Regions from separate parts of the Homo sapiens genome. Here all the other regions are reported to be linked to region 3. Evidence: microRNA targets listed by miRTarBase, many of them from high-throughput screens and not tested one by one. Region 3 holds a microRNA gene; each other region holds the end of a gene's coding sequence.
What was found. Region 3 holds the annotated microRNA hsa-miR-6871-5p (CAUGGGAGUUCGGGGUGGUUGC, at 2,385-2,406, shown strand). A microRNA usually pairs through its seed, bases 2 to 8, with sites in the 3' UTR of a target mRNA and lowers its output. Matches are read on the target gene's strand: a 7mer-m8 pairs with bases 2 to 8, a 7mer-A1 pairs with bases 2 to 7 and ends in A, and an 8mer does both.

Region 1 (4,000 bases), not on the chromosome of region 3:
TCCCCCGGAGGAGCTGCAGACACCGGATGGCGCTGTGCGGGTGCTGTTCCTGTCCAAAGGCAGCAGCCGGGCACATATCCCCGCACCGCTGGAGCAGGGCGTGGTGGCCGCCTTCAAACAGCTGTACAAGCGCGAGCTGCTGCGACTGGCTGTGTCCTGCGCCAGCGGCTCCCCGCTGGACTTCATGCGCAGCTTCATGCTCAAGGACATGCTCTACCTGGCTGGCCTCTCCTGGGACCTGGTGCAGGCGGGCAGCATTGAGCGCTGCTGGCTGCTGGGCCTGCGGGCTGCCTTCGAGCCCCGGCCCGGCGAGGACAGTGCTGGGCAGCCGGCCCAGGCCGAGGAAGCCGCCGAGCACAGCAGGGTGCTCAGCGACCTCACCCACCTGGCGGCTCTGGCCTACAAGTGCCTGGCTCCGGAGGAGGTTGCGGAGTGGCTGCACCTGGACGATGATGGGGGTCCGCCCGAGGGCTGCAGGGAGGAGGTGGGCCCAGCCCTGCCCCCTGCAGCGCCTCCGGCCCCAGCCAGTCTGCCCTCTGCCATGGGGGGCGGAGAGGACGAGGAGGAGGCCACCGACTATGGAGGGACCTCAGTGCCGACTGCCGGGGAGGCCGTGCGGGGGCTAGAAACAGCTCTGCGGTGGCTGGAGAACCAGGACCCCAGAGAGGTGGGGCCACTGAGGCTGGTGCAGTTGCGCTCACTCATCAGCATGGCCCGGAGGCTGGGGGGCATCGGGCATACCCCAGCAGGCCCCTATGACGGTGTGTGACCAGGCCAGCCCAGTGACCTTTCTCCTGCTGCACTTGGAGGGAGGGGACATACACACAGTCTCCCATCTCTCCTCCCCTCCCCCTGGGGTGGCCCACCGCATGGGTACAGGGGGTTCCAGGAATCCAAATCCAGCATGGCTTGGAGGAGCTCTGTTGGTGAGAGGTCGCCCTGCCTCACTGGCACCCTGGGGGCACAGCTGGAAGAGAGGCCTGGCCCATGCTCCTCTCAGGGCAGGCACATGTACGGGGCATACAAGGCACAGCGCCTGTTGGAACAGGTGGCTGTGTTCCTGCTCTGGCCCCCGTGGGGCTGGGCCTCCGCCCCTGCACCAGTCACATGCACTGGACGAGGGCCGAAACTCCTGTCTGCTATCGAGCCCTGGTGCTATGTGGCCCCGGAGCCACAGCACAATCATCTCAGTGGCGAAGCACACCACTTGATTCTATTTTTTTTTAACACATTAAATCTGTTTTTAAAGATACTCTTCAGAGGGGCCGTGAGAACAGGGGCCGGGTGGGCTGGTCTCGGGCCGCCCTGCGGTTTCTCTGGAGGTCAGAGGCCCCAGGTACTGGAGCATCACTGTGGAGTGGGAGGGGTGGAGCCCTGTATTAGGTTCTGGGTGCAGCAGGGAGGTGTAGAGTTCCGTTTCCTTGGATTTTTAGTTTTCCCTAAGAAAACTGAACAGATCTCTTATTCCGTGGGATTGGCAGCTGCCTGGCTTTGGGCCCTGGTGACTTGGCCAACGGCAGGAGAGTTTCCCCTGCTTCCTCATCAGCCACAGACCATTCTGTCCAGTCCCAGGGCCTGGAGCCACCTGACTTACCTGGAAGCAGGCCCTGGCATTAGCCCCCAGGGCAATACGCAGTGCCACCCTCTGTGGGCTCTCCTCCCCACCCTCAGACTTTTCTGCCTCTCCTGGGACTGCCAAGGATGTGGCTGACAAGCTGCTCCTGGGAGGCCTACTTTGAAAGGAGGAAAGGGCCCCAGGGCCTGTCAAACCCTGGTTCTGTTCTGCTCTGGCCAGGTCTAGACCTACAGTCCTTCTGGTTGGACTGGGGCCAGGGATGCCCATGCCTCCTCAGGTAGGGTGGGAACTGCCTTTGCAGAGATGCTGCCCGAGCTGGTGTGAGGGGCAGGGAGCTGGCCTGCTTGCCTCCAGGTGTTGACCCCTCGTCCCCATCTGCCCCCAGTGTCCTCCTAGGAGAGGGAACCTTGAAAACCCAGAGTTGTGGAGTGCAGGGGTAGGCTGGAGGCCTGCACGGGGAAGGGAAGGGCTGTGCACCAGCTTGGCAGTGGGGCAGCTGGAGGGTGTCCCCCAAAAGTGACCTTTATACAGGTCCAGGAACAAACAGTTCCTTGGAACTGCCCGCAAGTGAAGAAATATATACATATATATGTATATATCTATATCTCAAAATCTGAGAGCTCAGGGAGGCCGTGGAAATTTGGGGAAGAAGAAACAGACTCCCTGAGCAGAGCTCAGGGCAGCAGCTCCAGGCATGCCTGCTGAGCCCATCAGGCCACCGCCACCTGCAGGAAGAGCCTCTGGCCTGAACTGCTGGGGATGGGCTGCAGAAAGCCTGAGACATTTGGGCCAGCACCTTCCCAGGGGCACAGGCCCCCAAGGCGGGGACACCACCTCTGCTCTGCCAGGCCTGCCTCCAGGGCTCTGAGGAGAAGCTGACTTCACGGCCGCGGTGCCAGTGAGGGCTGCATAGCCAGGCCTTGTCTGTAGTCTGGGCGGCCCGTGGCGCTGCCCTTCAGCCCAACTACTCATTGCCGCTGCGTCTTTGGCGAGGCTTTCATTTCCAACCTTTCTTCCCATCTCAGCCCTTTTGTTGGCCCGGGTCCCAGGAGGCTGGTGTCGGTGAGGGCAGGCCCGCTCCTCTCATCGGGGTGGCTGTGGCCTGTCCCCCAGTCCCTCAATGGCCACTTTCTATAAACAAGGCAGCACTAATTTTTGCTATAAGATAAAAGAGGCCAGGCACGTTGGCTCACACCTGTCATCCCAGCACTTTGGGAGGCTGAGGCGGGTGGATCACCTGAGATTGGGAGTTCGAGACCAGCCTGGCCAACATGGTGAAAACCCCGTCTCTACTAAAAATACAAAAATTAGCTGGGCGTGGTGGCAGGTGCCTGTAACCCTAGCTACTCAGGAGGCTGAGGCACGAGAAATGCTTGAAGCCAGAAGGCAGAGATTGCAGTGAGCCAAGATCACAACACCGCGCTCCAGTCTGCGCGACAGAGCGAGACTCTGTCTCAAAAAAAAAAAAAAAAAAGTGCAGGTGCACGCTGGTGGGGACATTAGGAGCCTGTCAAGAGTGGGTCTGCCTGCTGGCACTTACTAGACGGGAAATACCCCCTAAAGAGGGCTTAAAAAGCATCTTCTCCCTAGCACGGGGCATGCTGGCACAGGGTGCTGTGTGACAGAGGCTTGGCCGCTGGGCCCCGCTGCTGAGAAGGCTGCTCTGCCCATGCCTGGCCCTGTGGGCAGTGCCAGCCATGGATCCCTGAGACCCTGGGCTGGAACCTGGGGCCCCGTCCCAGCCCTACCTGCAGCTCACTAACCCTCTCTGGGTTCTGCTCAGTGTCTGAAGTGATGGAAAGACCCCAGGGTTGGTGGCTGTAGCGGCCCCCAGGGGTGGCAGAACCCTTTGGGAGGCCAAGTGTTCTTTCCCAAAGCTGCGCGGGTGCCATCGCCTGCCAGGCCCTGGCTGTGGTGACAGACGTGGGCTGGGGTGAGGCTGCATCTGCTTCCTCTAACAGCCGTGGCTGCCTGCGGGCTCTGGCCTCCGCTCTGGCAGATTCTGCACATTCCCTGCAGGCGCAGGGGTGGGTGGGGGTGCCTGTGGCCTCGGAGGTACAGCCAGCTGTCCTCAGCTCAGATGGCCCCCAAGAGCCCCCAGCTCCTGTTCACTGCTCTTCCAGTTAGTGACCCCCGTGTCAGCATCATTGTCAGAGTTCCTGGGCTTGTGGGGGCTGGAGAAGGGAAGGCGCTGAGGAGGGAAAGATGAGTGCAGGTTTTGTTGAAACCACCCGACCCGCGTTTTCAGGGGGACGAGGCCACTGCCTTGGCCCAAGGACCTGCAGGCTTGGGGGACCCCCTCGATGTCCACTGGGCTGCGGATGAAACATCACACTGTGGTAGGAAAGGAAGGGGAGCACCCCCAGACGGGGGGGTCCTGCAGAGACCCCAACCCCTTACCTACCTAGTTGAGACACCCATGGG
Region 2 (4,000 bases), not on the chromosome of region 3:
TCCTCTAACAGGACATAAAGTTACTGAGAATGTCCTTCAAATTTCTATCATGGCTCTACATTTTAAATAAATAAATGCATAAACAATTTAATTCCCATAATAATAGTCAGAAATACTCACTAAATAAAGGAAAACAATAAATAAATCTTTTATTTTAATACAATCTCGAGATCAATAACACATTGGTAAACTTTCTGCAGAAGTGCATTCCTAAATAAGTAAACCCAAGGCAATAGTTGACAAAAAGGTAAAGAAGTAGCTTTATTTTAAAATACAGTCTTCCTTTGGTATCTTTGGGGGATTGGTTCCAGGAACCCTCATGGATACCAAAATCCTTGGATGTTCATGTCACTTTTATAAAATGGCATGGTATTTGCATATAACCTACAGATTCTCCCAAATACTTTAAATCACCTCTAAATTATTTATAATACCTACAATGTAAATGCTATCCAAATAGTTGTTATATAGTATTGGTTTTTAATTTGTATTTTTTTATATTATTTTTTCTCAAATATTTTTGATATATGGTTGGCTGAATCTGCAGAAGCAGAACCTATGGATACAGAGCACCGACTGTAAATGCCAAAAAAATTAACTTTAAAAAATAACTTCATCAACGTGAGTTATTTTTAAATACAAATAGGGACTGAACATACATGCATCAAATTGTACTCTCGTTCACTGACATAAGCACACCTCCAAACAATACGAAGGTAAATACATAAATATATACAAATAAATACACACACCCAAATAACAAGCTACACATCACCCACCATTTTCCAAGACCAAAATTTTCACATAAACATACTGGCAAATACAGCAAAATATCAGTGTACATTAACATACTTACATATACAGATATGCATAAATACCAGAATTCAAAGCAACATGTAGCATATAACACAGGTACTTAAGGCATAAACACCACAGCTCAGTGAGAAACAGCACAGGGAGAAAGAGTTATCTATTGAAACAAATACTATTGTGACCTTCTCACACTAGGGATGAAAATTCAGCAGTTCACAATGGAATTGAGACTAATAAAATGCTTATGCTTTAAATAATAGAAACAAAGAAACCAGACTCTAAACCACTCCCCACTGCCAATGAGTTTGTTATGTTGATAATGTGAAAACAACTTCAGAGACTTAAAAGCACAGAGAAGCTGGGGAGTCCTATCTAGAAAAAAGATTTGCTACCCTGCCCCTGCCCCTGCCTCTGCCTCTGCCTCTCCCTCTCCCTCTCCCCTCTCCCCTCTCCCCTCTCCCCTCTCCCCTCTCCCTCTCGGTCTCCCTCTCCCTCTCTTTCCACTGTCTCCCTCTGATGCCGAGCCGAAACTGGACTGTACTGCTGCCATCTCGGTTCACTGCAACCTCCCTGCCTGATTCTCCTGCCTCAGCCTGCCGAGGGCCTGCGATTGCAGGCGCGCGCCACCACGCCTGACTGGTTTTCGTACTTTTTTGGTGGAGACGGGGTTTCACTGTGTTGGCCGGGCTGGTCTCCAGCTCCTAACCGCGAGTGATCCGCCAGCCTTGGCCTCCCGAGGTGCCGGGATTGCAGACGGAGTCTGGTTCACTCAGTGCTCAATGGTGCCCAGGCTGGAGTGCAGTGGCATGATCTCAGCTCGCTACAACCTCCATCTCCCAGCCGCCTGCCTTGGCCTCCCAAAGTGCCGAGATTGCAGCCTCTGCCCGGCCGCCACCCCGTCTGGGAAGTGAGGAGCGTCTCTGCCTGGCCGCCCATCGTCTGGGACGTGAGGAGCCCCTCTGCCTGGCTGCCCAGTCTGGAAAGTGAGGAGCGTCTCTGACCGGCCGCCATCCCATCTAGGAAGTGAGGAGCGCCTCTTCCTGGCAGCCATCCCGTCTGGGAAGTGAGGAGCGTCTCTGCCCGGCCGCCCATCGTCTGAGATGTGGGGAGCGCCTCTGCCCCGCCGCCCCGTCTGGGAGGTGAGGAGCGTCTCTGCCCAGCCGCCCCGTCTGAGAAGTGAGGAGACCCTCCGCCCAGCATCCGCCCCATCTGAGAAGTGAGGAGCCCCTCCGCCCGGCAGCCACCCCGTCTGGGAAGTGAGGAGCGTCTCCGCCCGGCAGCCGCCCCGTCCGGGAGGGAGGTGGGGGAGTCAGCCCCCCACCCGGCCAGACGCCCCGTCCGGGAGGTGAGGGGCGCCTCTGCCCAGCCGCCCCTACTGGGAAGTGAGGAGCCCCTCTGCCTGGCCAGCCACCCCGTCCAGGAGGGAGGTGGGGGAGTCAGCCCCCCGCCCGGCCAGCCGCCCCGTCCGGGAGGGAGGTGGGGGGGTCAGCCCCCCACCCGGCCAGCCGCCCCGTCCGGGAGGTGAGGGGCGCCTCTGCCCGGCCGCCCCTACTGGGAAGTGAGGAGCCCCTCTGCCCAGCCAGCCGCCCCGTCCGGGAGGGAGGTGGGGGGGTCAGCCCCCCGCCCGGCCAGCTGCCCCGTCCAGGAGGTGAGGGGCGCCTCTGCCCAGCCGCCCCTACTGGGAAGTGAGGAGCCCCTCTGCCCAGCCAGCCGCCCCGTCCGGGAGGGAGGTGGGGGGGCCAGCCCCCCGCCCGGCCAGCCGCCCCGTCCGGGAGGGAGGTGGGGGGGTCAGCCCCCCGCCCGGCCAGCCGCCCCGTCCGGGAGGTGAGGGGCGACTCTGCCCGGCCACCCCTACTAGGAAGTGAGGAGCCCCTCTGCCCAGCCACCACCTCGTCTGGGAGGTGTACCCAACAGCTCTTTGAGAACGGGCCGGGATGACAATGGCGGTTTTGTGGAATAGAAAGGGGGGAAATGTGGGGAAAAGATAGAGAAATCGGATGGTTGCCGTGTCTGTGTAGAAAGAAGTAGACATGGGAGACTTTTCATTTTGTTCTGTACTAAGATAAATTCTTCTGCCTTGGGATCCTGTTGATCGGTGACCTTACCCCCAACCCTGTGCCCTCTGAAACATGTGCTGTGTCCACTCAGGGTTAAATGGATTAAGGGCGGTGCAAGATGTGCTTTGTTAAACAGATGCTTGAAGGCAGCATGCTCGTTAAGAATCATCACCACTCCCTAATCTCAAGTACCCAGGGACACAAACACTGCGGAAGGCTGCAGGGTCCTCTGCCTAGGAAAACCAGAGACCTTTGTTCACTTGTTTATCTGCCAACCTTCCCTCCACTATTGTCCTATGACCCTGCCAAATCCCCCTCTGCGAGAAACACCCAAGAATGATCAATAAAAAAAATAAAAATTAAAAAAAAAAGTTAAAAAAAAAAAAAAAAAGAAAAAAGATTTGCTAAATGAAATCACTAAAGATGAACATAGAAACAGTCTGTAAAGTTAGCTAAATTATCTTTATTTTTTTTTAGAAACAGGGTCTCACTCTGTTGCCCAGGCTGGAGTGCAGTGGCATGATCTTAGATCACTAAAGCCTCAGACTCCTGGGCTCAAGTGATCCTCCCAGCCTCAACCTCCTAAGTAGCTGGGATCACAGGTGCGTGACACTATGCGTGGCTCAAATTCTTTTTACTTTGAAGGCCCTGCTAGAAACTTGCTGCTGCTCTAATTCACGACTTGGAGAGACAAAACTAAAAAAGCTGTTGCTGGGTTCAGGTGCTGTGGGAGAACCCGCAAAAAATGGTCTGAACTGAAAATCTCCATCTCCATCGCCCCGATTTCGAACAGGTGTATTATCCAAAGGAAACTTGGAGTTGTTACCTAGGGCAGAAAAAAAGGAAAAACATAATTTTATTCATTTGTTATCTATATAATCTACTTCAGAGGAATCATCAAATATATATATATGAATATATATTTTTTCTCCAATATTTGTCTTAGAAAAAAACAGACATATAAAATCTTTTACCCCAGGTTAAGAATTTTTTTAAAAAAACATTGCAATAAACATTCTAGAAAAAATATAACTGAAATATTGGCATATACCATGACCCAATATCAATTAGCATAGGCTTAAGACAAGCAGATAATAGATCTGATTAAATTAACATTTAACTACTTCCAC
Region 3 (4,149 bases):
CCCTGACCCTGTGTGACTGTTTTGTCCTTGTGAAGGGCTGAGGGCAAGATCAAGCATTGCCGTGTCCAGCAAGAGGGCCAGACAGTGATGCTAGGGAACTCGGAGTTCGACAGCCTTGTTGACCTCATCAGCTACTATGAGAAACACCCGCTATACCGCAAGATGAAGCTGCGCTATCCCATCAACGAGGAGGCACTGGAGAAGATTGGCACAGCTGTGAGGGGGCTGTGGTAGACGGGGCATGGCAGGGGAGGCAGGAGAGACCCAGAATCTTACCAGTCTCTGGATGTGTGTAACAGCAAGACCTGGTGTGTTGTAGAAGTTCGTGGGAGGGCCCCTGACTCCAGCTGGGAGCCACAGTGTGGGTACCAGGAGGGTGTCTGCAGGAGGGGACATCTGAGCAGCATCTTTAAGGATGGGGACAGGCACATAAGCAGAGGGTTCCTCATGAGTCAAGATGTGGAGTGAGGAGGTTCTGGGGCTCACACTGGGAGAGGTGCACACAGTGGAAACTCATCCACCTGGGCTTGGCCTGGACTCTGTCCTAGGGCAGATGAGATGAGGCTACCCAAGAGTGGTTGTGGAGCCTCCGCCTGGTGGATGGTATGGAGGGCAGAGCCACAGGAGGTGAGACCAGTGAGGGAAAAAGTCAGGACCCATGGCAGCACAGCTGGTGATAAGGGCCCTGGACAGAAGGAAGGGGTCTAGGACCAGAAGATCAGTTGAGAGACTGCTGTCGTCAGTAGACAGGGCTGGCTGGGGAGAGAGAGGCCTGTTGTCCACTGGCACCTGGGACTCAAGTGATGGAGAGGAGCGGCAGGAGGAATGTGGGGAGTGGGAAGGCTTTTCCTGACTTTGGGCTCAGCAGTGAACCAACAAGCCACTGAACTAAAGCACTGAATATGGGTAGTCTGTGAAGGGCCCACCTGCACATAGCTCAGAAATACTTGGGAGTTTGGGCATTTAGGACCTGAGAGATTTTAGAATCCTGGGCTGGGCCTTACATGTAAGAATGTGAAGAAAGGAAAGGGAACAGTGAGGCCGGGCCTGAGGCCTCTGAAGCCGTCTCTACTGAGGTCGAAGGATCCCTGTGGATCAGGTGCAAGTTTGCTGCACTGGGGGAAAGGGAAGCTGCTCCAGAAACCAGTAGCTGCTTTCTACCTCTGGGCTCTGGGGCATTAACATATCCCATTGTGTCCTGTTTCCAGGAGCCTGACTACGGGGCCCTGTATGAGGGACGCAACCCTGGCTTCTATGTAGAGGCAAACCCTATGCCAACTTTCAAGGTACAGCTCAGGCCTCTGGGCATAGGAAGCTGGGGAGGGTCCCCAGCTGCTTGGGGCTTCATTTCTGTGTTCTGGGCCATCTGTGGTCTTTGTGGAGAAGTGGTGGTTGTGGTTTTCCGAGGCCCAAGAGGTTGTGAGAGATGTGTGGTTGGTGAGCGACCGCAGGTCTCCCAGGGCCGACCCACTCCCTAGCCCCTACCCCTTAAGTCAGCAGTGACCCTTTAAACTGCTCCTGTGGGTGACCCCTGTTTCCTTCCTGGGCAGCAGCGGGGTAGGAGCTGGGAGGCACACTGGCCACTCATTCCCCGGCCTCATGGAGCCCTGTTACACAGGTTCTTTTTTGTTTTGCCTTTTTCTCTAAAAAGGCCTGGGCCCTATTTCTCACCCCCTCCCCTCCACAGCCAGGGGACCTGGAAGGAAGTTTTTCTTTCCACTTCACAGATGAGTGGTAGGGTCCCATCCAGGCCCCATATGCTTCCAGGTCCCGGGGAGGCACTCAGGGCCACTGCAGACCCTGCCTTCTTGGCCTGCCAGCCCTGACTCCTGGGAGCGGATTCAAGGTTCTCCCTGTGGCCCAGGGTGGGGCTTAAGGTTCCACCTGGGTCCCGAGGTATTTCACTGGCAGAGGCCCTGCCTCTCTGATCATATCTGTCCTGGAGCTTCCCTGCAGGGCAGTAACAAGAACTATAACTAGGGCCTGTTGATGGCAGTGTCATCTCCCACTGGCCTGACCCCAGGCAGGGAAGCCCAAGCACATGTGTGTGTGCACATGAAGCCCCAGGTTGGCAGTGGCAGGGAGAGCCTTTCTGCTCTGACTGGTGCTTCTCACCTCTGCAGTGTGCAGTCAAAGCCCTCTTTGACTACAAGGCCCAGAGGGAGGACGAGCTGACCTTCATCAAGAGCGCCATCATCCAGAATGTGGAGAAGCAAGAGGGAGGCTGGTAAGCCAGTGGTGTGGTAGGCCCAGAGTCCAAGGGCCCCAGTGGAGCTGGGGCCCCAAAGACATGCATTTGTGATGTGCTTGTCTCCTGTGTGCACCAGCAGTGCCTGCCTCACCCTGGCTTAGGCATGGGAACCCCTACCAAAGGATACCCTCCTCATGGGAGTTCGGGGTGGTTGCTGGAGGTCAGCACCCTGTGGCTCCCACAGGTGGCGAGGGGACTACGGAGGGAAGAAGCAGCTGTGGTTCCCATCAAACTACGTGGAAGAGATGGTCAACCCCGTGGCCCTGGAGCCGGAGAGGGAGGTAAGACCAGAACCACCTGAGTAACAGCATTCCCTATTCCCAGATTCTCCTTGGCATGCCCCCATCACACAGTCCCAAGCACGCACGTGCATGCACAGACACCTGTCACATGGGCTGGTCGCACAGCCCATGTGGCCATGCACGTAGTCTCCCATATACCTGTGCTACATTTGGCAGTCACAGGTACACCCACAAGATGTATTTGTCCCATGCACACGGATATCCCCTCACACACATATGCAGTAGCCATGCTGACCATTGGTGGGCTTTGCTTCCCACAGCACTTGGACGAGAACAGCCCCCTAGGGGACTTGCTGCGGGGGGTCTTGGATGTGCCGGCTTGTCAGATTGGTGAGCTCCCATCTGTTTCTCTTGCCCACTGTTCCCTAGGGTGAGATTCTTCTTTGTATCTCTTTCCTGCTCCTAGGGAGGAAGCTGATGGCTGAACCCCAAAGTCTGCCCTCACTCCAAGCTCTCCCCATGCTCTGGACATCCCCTTGACACCCTGGGCTCCCTTTGTCACTGTCAGCTTTGACCCCTGCATGTTTACCTATGCCAGGCACTGGGGAACCCGTCAGAATCAGCAGAACAAAGTTGATGCTGCTGGTTGGCTGACATCCCCAGGCCTAATGGGTTGTACCACAGGGATGTGACAGAGGCTTGGAGATGGGGTGGAGAGGGAGACACGGCCTGAGGAAGAAGCATGAGTCAGAGCTGAGTTGGAACACTGGCTCCACCACAACCAGCAGTGACTTGTTTGAGTTGTAGCGTCGTCATCTGTCAAATGGGCCAGCAGAGTAGTCCTTCCCCTCATGGGGTGTGGGAAGGAGGAAATGGGATGAGATAGAACTCATTTGAGCCAGTGCCTGCGGTGTGGAGTGGGGTGGAGGGGGTGAGATGTCTATTCCCAGCTGTTATCTGCTCTCGCCCTCCCAGCCATCCGTCCTGAGGGCAAGAACAACCGGCTCTTCGTCTTCTCCATCAGCATGGCGTCGGTGGCCCACTGGTCCCTGGATGTTGCTGCCGACTCACAGGAGGAGCTGCAGGACTGGGTGAAAAAGATCCGTGAAGTGGCCCAGACAGCAGACGCCAGGGTGAGATTCTGCTGGAACCTTCTGGGGGGCAGTGTGTGGGCCCGTCAGGCAGCTGAGGCCTCCAGCTCCCAGCACAGGCCCCCTCAGAGCAGTGGGGCAGCCGATGGCCTATGCTAGATAGGCCACAGCCCCTGCCTTAGCTAGGGATTGAGAAGAAACAGACACATAAGATGCAATGTGGTGTGTTTAGGTTGTGTTGAGTTTGAGATACTGATGGGTCGTTGAAGTGGGTCTGCTTAGTGGGCAATTGGATACACAAGACCAGAGGTAAGAGGAGAAGTCCTGGGCTGGAAGCAGGAGTGGAGTGGGGGCTGAGGCATAGAAGGGATGAGGTGGTGTCGCATAGGAAGAGAACTTGGGATGGATTGAGAAGCTCCATATGAGAAGGCATGGGCGAGGAAAGGAGCCCAGGAAAGGCAGGTCAGACAGACTGCAGGCCACTGGTGAGGGAGAGGGTCTGCTGTGTTGAGAGCTACAGAGGTAAAGACAGGAACGATAAGAACTTGCAAGTGCCCTTTGGATT
Region 4 (4,000 bases), not on the chromosome of region 3:
CTCTTTTTCCCACGCTGGCTGGACTTGCAGGACTGCAGGTTCCACCTCGCTGCCCCGTTCCTTCATTTCACGTTGAGCTGTGCAGAGAAGGCAAGAACCTTCTGAAGCATTTTCGATTCCGTGACTTGGAAGAGGATCCGTACCTCCCTGGTAATCCCCGTGAACTGATTGCCTATAGCCAGTATCCCCGGCCTTCAGACATCCCTCAGTGGAATTCTGACAAGCCGAGTTTAAAAGATATAAAGATCATGGGCTATTCCATACGCACCATAGACTATAGGTATACTGTGTGGGTTGGCTTCAATCCTGATGAATTTCTAGCTAACTTTTCTGACATCCATGCAGGGGAACTGTATTTTGTGGATTCTGACCCATTGCAGGATCACAATATGTATAATGATTCCCAAGGTGGAGATCTTTTCCAGTTGTTGATGCCTTGAGTTTTGCCAACCATGGATGGCAAATGTGATGTGCTCCCTTCCAGCTGGTGAGAGGAGGAGTTAGAGCTGGTCGTTTTGTGATTACCCATAATATTGGAAGCAGCCTGAGGGCTAGTTAATCCAAACATGCATCAACAATTTGGCCTGAGAATATGTAACAGCCAAACCTTTTCGTTTAGTCTTTATTAAAATTTATAATTGGTAATTGGACCAGTTTTTTTTTTAATTTCCCTCTTTTTAAAACAGTTACGGCTTATTTACTGAATAAATACAAAGCAAACAAACTCAAGTTATGTCATACCTTTGGATACGAAGACCATACATAATAACCAAACATAACATTATACACAAAGAATACTTTCATTATTTGTGGAATTTAGTGCATTTCAAAAAGTAATCATATATCAAACTAGGCACCACACTAAGTTCCTGATTATTTTGTTTATAATTTAATAATATATCTTATGAGCCCTATATATTCAAAATATTATGTTAACATGTAATCCATGTTTCTTTTTCAAATCTAAAGTTAAAAAAAAATAGCAGAAGCCAGTGTCTTAAAGTCTATCTTTTGTTTCTAAGACCATGGGATTTCATAATCTCAAGATAAAATATGTATGAAGTAATTAATGTAGAATTTTTACACCAAATAATAAATAATGCTTAATAAACTAGAGATATGAGATGTGTAGGAAATTTGGTTAAACTTTTTTCAGATACTTTCTGGCCCAAATAATAATTTGTTAGCAAATAATATGACCCTTGAACTCAATGGCCATCTATTAAAAGACTGTTGTTCACACTGGAAAACATTTAAAGATGTGACTATATCCATGGGTGGATTGAATCACTCAAAATATATTAGTATCCTTCTTTAGGGATGGTTGGTTACAGACATGTATTTATTCAGGAGGCAGAAAATATTCCATTTTAATTGCTTATTAAAGAAAACATTAAATTCTAAATTATTTTGAGGACTGTGAAGACTTTTCATTAGTGTAATATTAGGTCATTGTCAATCTCCCAGAATGTAGTTCTATATTCTCTAAATATGAAAGTATCCAGAAAGGCCAGTGGTAGTAAAAAGCTTAGTGTATATAATCTCAAAAGGGATGGAATATTTACAACTCATATTTATAACATGTTGAATCTTCTCAGTTATCAGTAGTCATCAGAAGTGTCAATAGCTTTCTAAATAAATATTAAATATCTACTGTCCTGTAGTGAAGGAGTAATTTTTAGTAATTTTCTCTTTACAAAGTCTCCAGTGTTTCCAGGTAAATATTTGTGAAACAAAATACAGCAAACTACATTGTTACTTCAGTGTATTGTTGCCAAAAATGACAAGATATTATATTAAAATCAGTAAATTTTAGACAGATTTTAAAAATTAATTAGCCTACAATAGAGGTTATATGGTAACACGGTGATCTTCTAAGCAGTTAAGTGACTGACTGTTCTGGCAACAACGACTTCTCCGTGACTGAAGGGCCCTGTTCATTTCCTGATCCTGAAGCTCGTCTCTCTTTTGAGCCTCCGCTTGCTTTGGTCGATGGTTTCCCTCAGCTTTTTCTTTGCTGTTCTTCATCCTCGTTGTTGCTGTCATCATGTTCACTGTGGCTTTTACAATACAGCCTGTAAATTCCTTATGACATAGTTCAGTGCATTTGGCTTTATTGCCTGCTCCACAGTTCTTTACCTTTACTTGGCTTAGAGAAACTGTATCTTTGTTGCTTCATATAACCTTTCCCCAACCCCACTAAGCTGGACATAACTTATTAGTGGTCCTCCCGTCACTTTATTTGTAGAAATCTCTCTTTCACATGAGCAGGGGTTCTTTCATGTGGTTTAGCTGACAGCAGAACTAGTGATTCTAGACATTTTGCATGGCCCTCATTCAGTGGCTCACAAACATGAGGGAGCATCAGAACTACTTGAGGGGCTTGTTAAAACCCAGTGCGTTAGAAGTCGGATGCGGTGGCTCACACCTGTAATCCCAGCACTTTGGGAGGCCCAGGCAGGCGGATCACTTGAGGTTAGGAGTTCAAGACCAGCCTGGCCAACATGGTGAAACCCCGTCTCTACTAAAAATACAAAAGTTAGCCGGGTGTGGTGGTGCATGCCTGTAATCCCAGCTTCTTGGGAGGCCAAGGCACAAGAATCGCTTGAACCAGGAGACGGAGGTTTCAGTGAATGAAGATCGTGCCATTGTATTCCAGCCTCGGCAACACAGCAGGACTGTGATTTTCTTTGGAGACTCCTAGATTTTCTGTGGTTTTGAACTGAATTTGTTGGATGTTGGCAAGTGCCTCTTATGAGCTGTTTCTTTATCCTGCATTTGCCCCACAAAGACTTATCTGGAGGTGAGCAAAGTATGTTTGGTAGTGAGGTCACAAAGGCAATCAGCCCCTTCCTCCCCACTCCCATTGCCATCTTCTCAGTCCTTCTCCCTTTCTTTCCAAGTAGTTTACCCACCCCTCCTCTTTCCTCCCCTGTCCCTAAAATAATCCACGTGTCTTCCTAAAATCTCTCTTTGATCCTGTCCTTTGATAACACCGTCAGTGCCTACTACTGGGTCTAGACAGACCTCTGTTGAGCAGTCAGAGTCTTCCCTGACTCCACAATGCCCCTTTCCTTGGCTGACCAGTATGACTACTGGTCCCCACCTTTCCCTTGCCTATCCCTACCTCCCTCCTACTAGGTTGTCCCATCCCTCTCTTCACCCATTCATTCATGACCATTTTTCACTACCAAGCTCCCCCCCTCCCGAAGGAGGCTGAGGTTTTTGTGACTCTCTAGACTCTATTGTGGGATGGAATGAACATTGCTAAAGAATCTTGTGTTCGCTTTACTTTAAAAAGGTATTTTTTTCCTAATTATAAAACTGATGTGTCAGTTACGGAAAAATTAGAAATGCAGCACAAATACATGAATATTTTACCACAAAATTGCCATATAATATCTTGTCTTTTTTGGGGGTGTGAATTTTTTGCATTGTTCTGGTCATATTCTTTATCATGTAATTTATGTTCTTTTTTACTAAGTATTATGTGTGGTTATTATAGATTTTCACAAAGATATATTGCTGGTAATATATTTTATTGTGTAGTCTTATAATTTACTTAACCTTCTTTCAATTGTTAGAAATTTAGGCTATTTCCAGATTTTCAGTATTGTAAATAATGCTGTGATGACCAATTTTGTGAATAAAATGTTTTTATGTATTTCAGATTATTCCCTTAGGATAGTCTCTCAGTGCCAAGTTGTCAAAAACATCTCTATTTTGCTTATCTTCCTGCTCTCTTGCTGCCTTAGGGGGTAGTAAACTGAAACATAAAGTAAACATGCATACAAATAAAAAACATAAAACAAAAATAAGCAACCTGATGGTAATAGGTGAAAGTGGTAACCTGTTTTAACTTTGAATTCTTGCCGGGCGCGGTGGCTCACGCCTGTAATCCCAGCACTTTGGGAGGCTGAGGCGGGTGGATCACGAGGTCAGGAGTTCAAAACCAGCCTGGCCAAGATGGTGAAATCCCGTCTCTACTAAAAATACAAAA

Region 1: the mRNA of TIGD5 is a reported target of hsa-miR-6871-5p. Seed matches in the 3' UTR shown: 7mer-m8 at 830-836.
Region 2: miRTarBase lists CCNB1IP1 as a target of hsa-miR-6871-5p. The part of its 3' UTR that is shown has no 7-base or 8-base seed match.
Region 4: miRTarBase lists IDS as a target of hsa-miR-6871-5p. Seed matches in the 3' UTR shown: 7mer-m8 at 2,861-2,867.

Annotation. Positions count from the first base shown.
Region 1 is chr8:143,599,064-143,603,063 of GRCh38, forward strand. TIGD5 (tigger transposable element derived 5) reads left to right here. Exons shown (of 1, transcript NM_032862.5): 1 at 1-4,000. The coding sequence ends at 769. Among named protein-coding and RNA genes, the nearest start is that of TIGD5, 3.2 kb to the left of the region's middle.
Region 2 is chr14:20,308,057-20,312,056 of GRCh38, forward strand. CCNB1IP1 (cyclin B1 interacting protein 1) reads right to left here. Exons shown (of 7, transcript NM_021178.5): 7 at 3,314-3,696. The coding sequence ends at 3,494. Among named protein-coding and RNA genes, the nearest start is that of TTC5, 4.1 kb to the left of the region's middle. RefSeq lists a silencer at 821-1,021.
Region 3 is chr20:41,166,644-41,170,792 of GRCh38, forward strand. MIR6871 (microRNA 6871) reads left to right here and starts at 2,380; the gene lies at 2,380-2,435. PLCG1 (phospholipase C gamma 1) reads left to right here. Exons shown (of 32, transcript NM_002660.3): 19 at 36-216; 20 at 1,209-1,286; 21 at 2,124-2,227; 22 at 2,436-2,532; 23 at 2,814-2,883; 24 at 3,469-3,626.
Region 4 is chrX:149,479,186-149,483,185 of GRCh38, reverse strand. It overlaps IDS (iduronate 2-sulfatase), which reads left to right. Exons shown (of 9, transcript NM_000202.8): 9 at 1-4,000. The coding sequence ends at 440. Among named protein-coding and RNA genes, the nearest start is that of IDS, 24 kb to the left of the region's middle.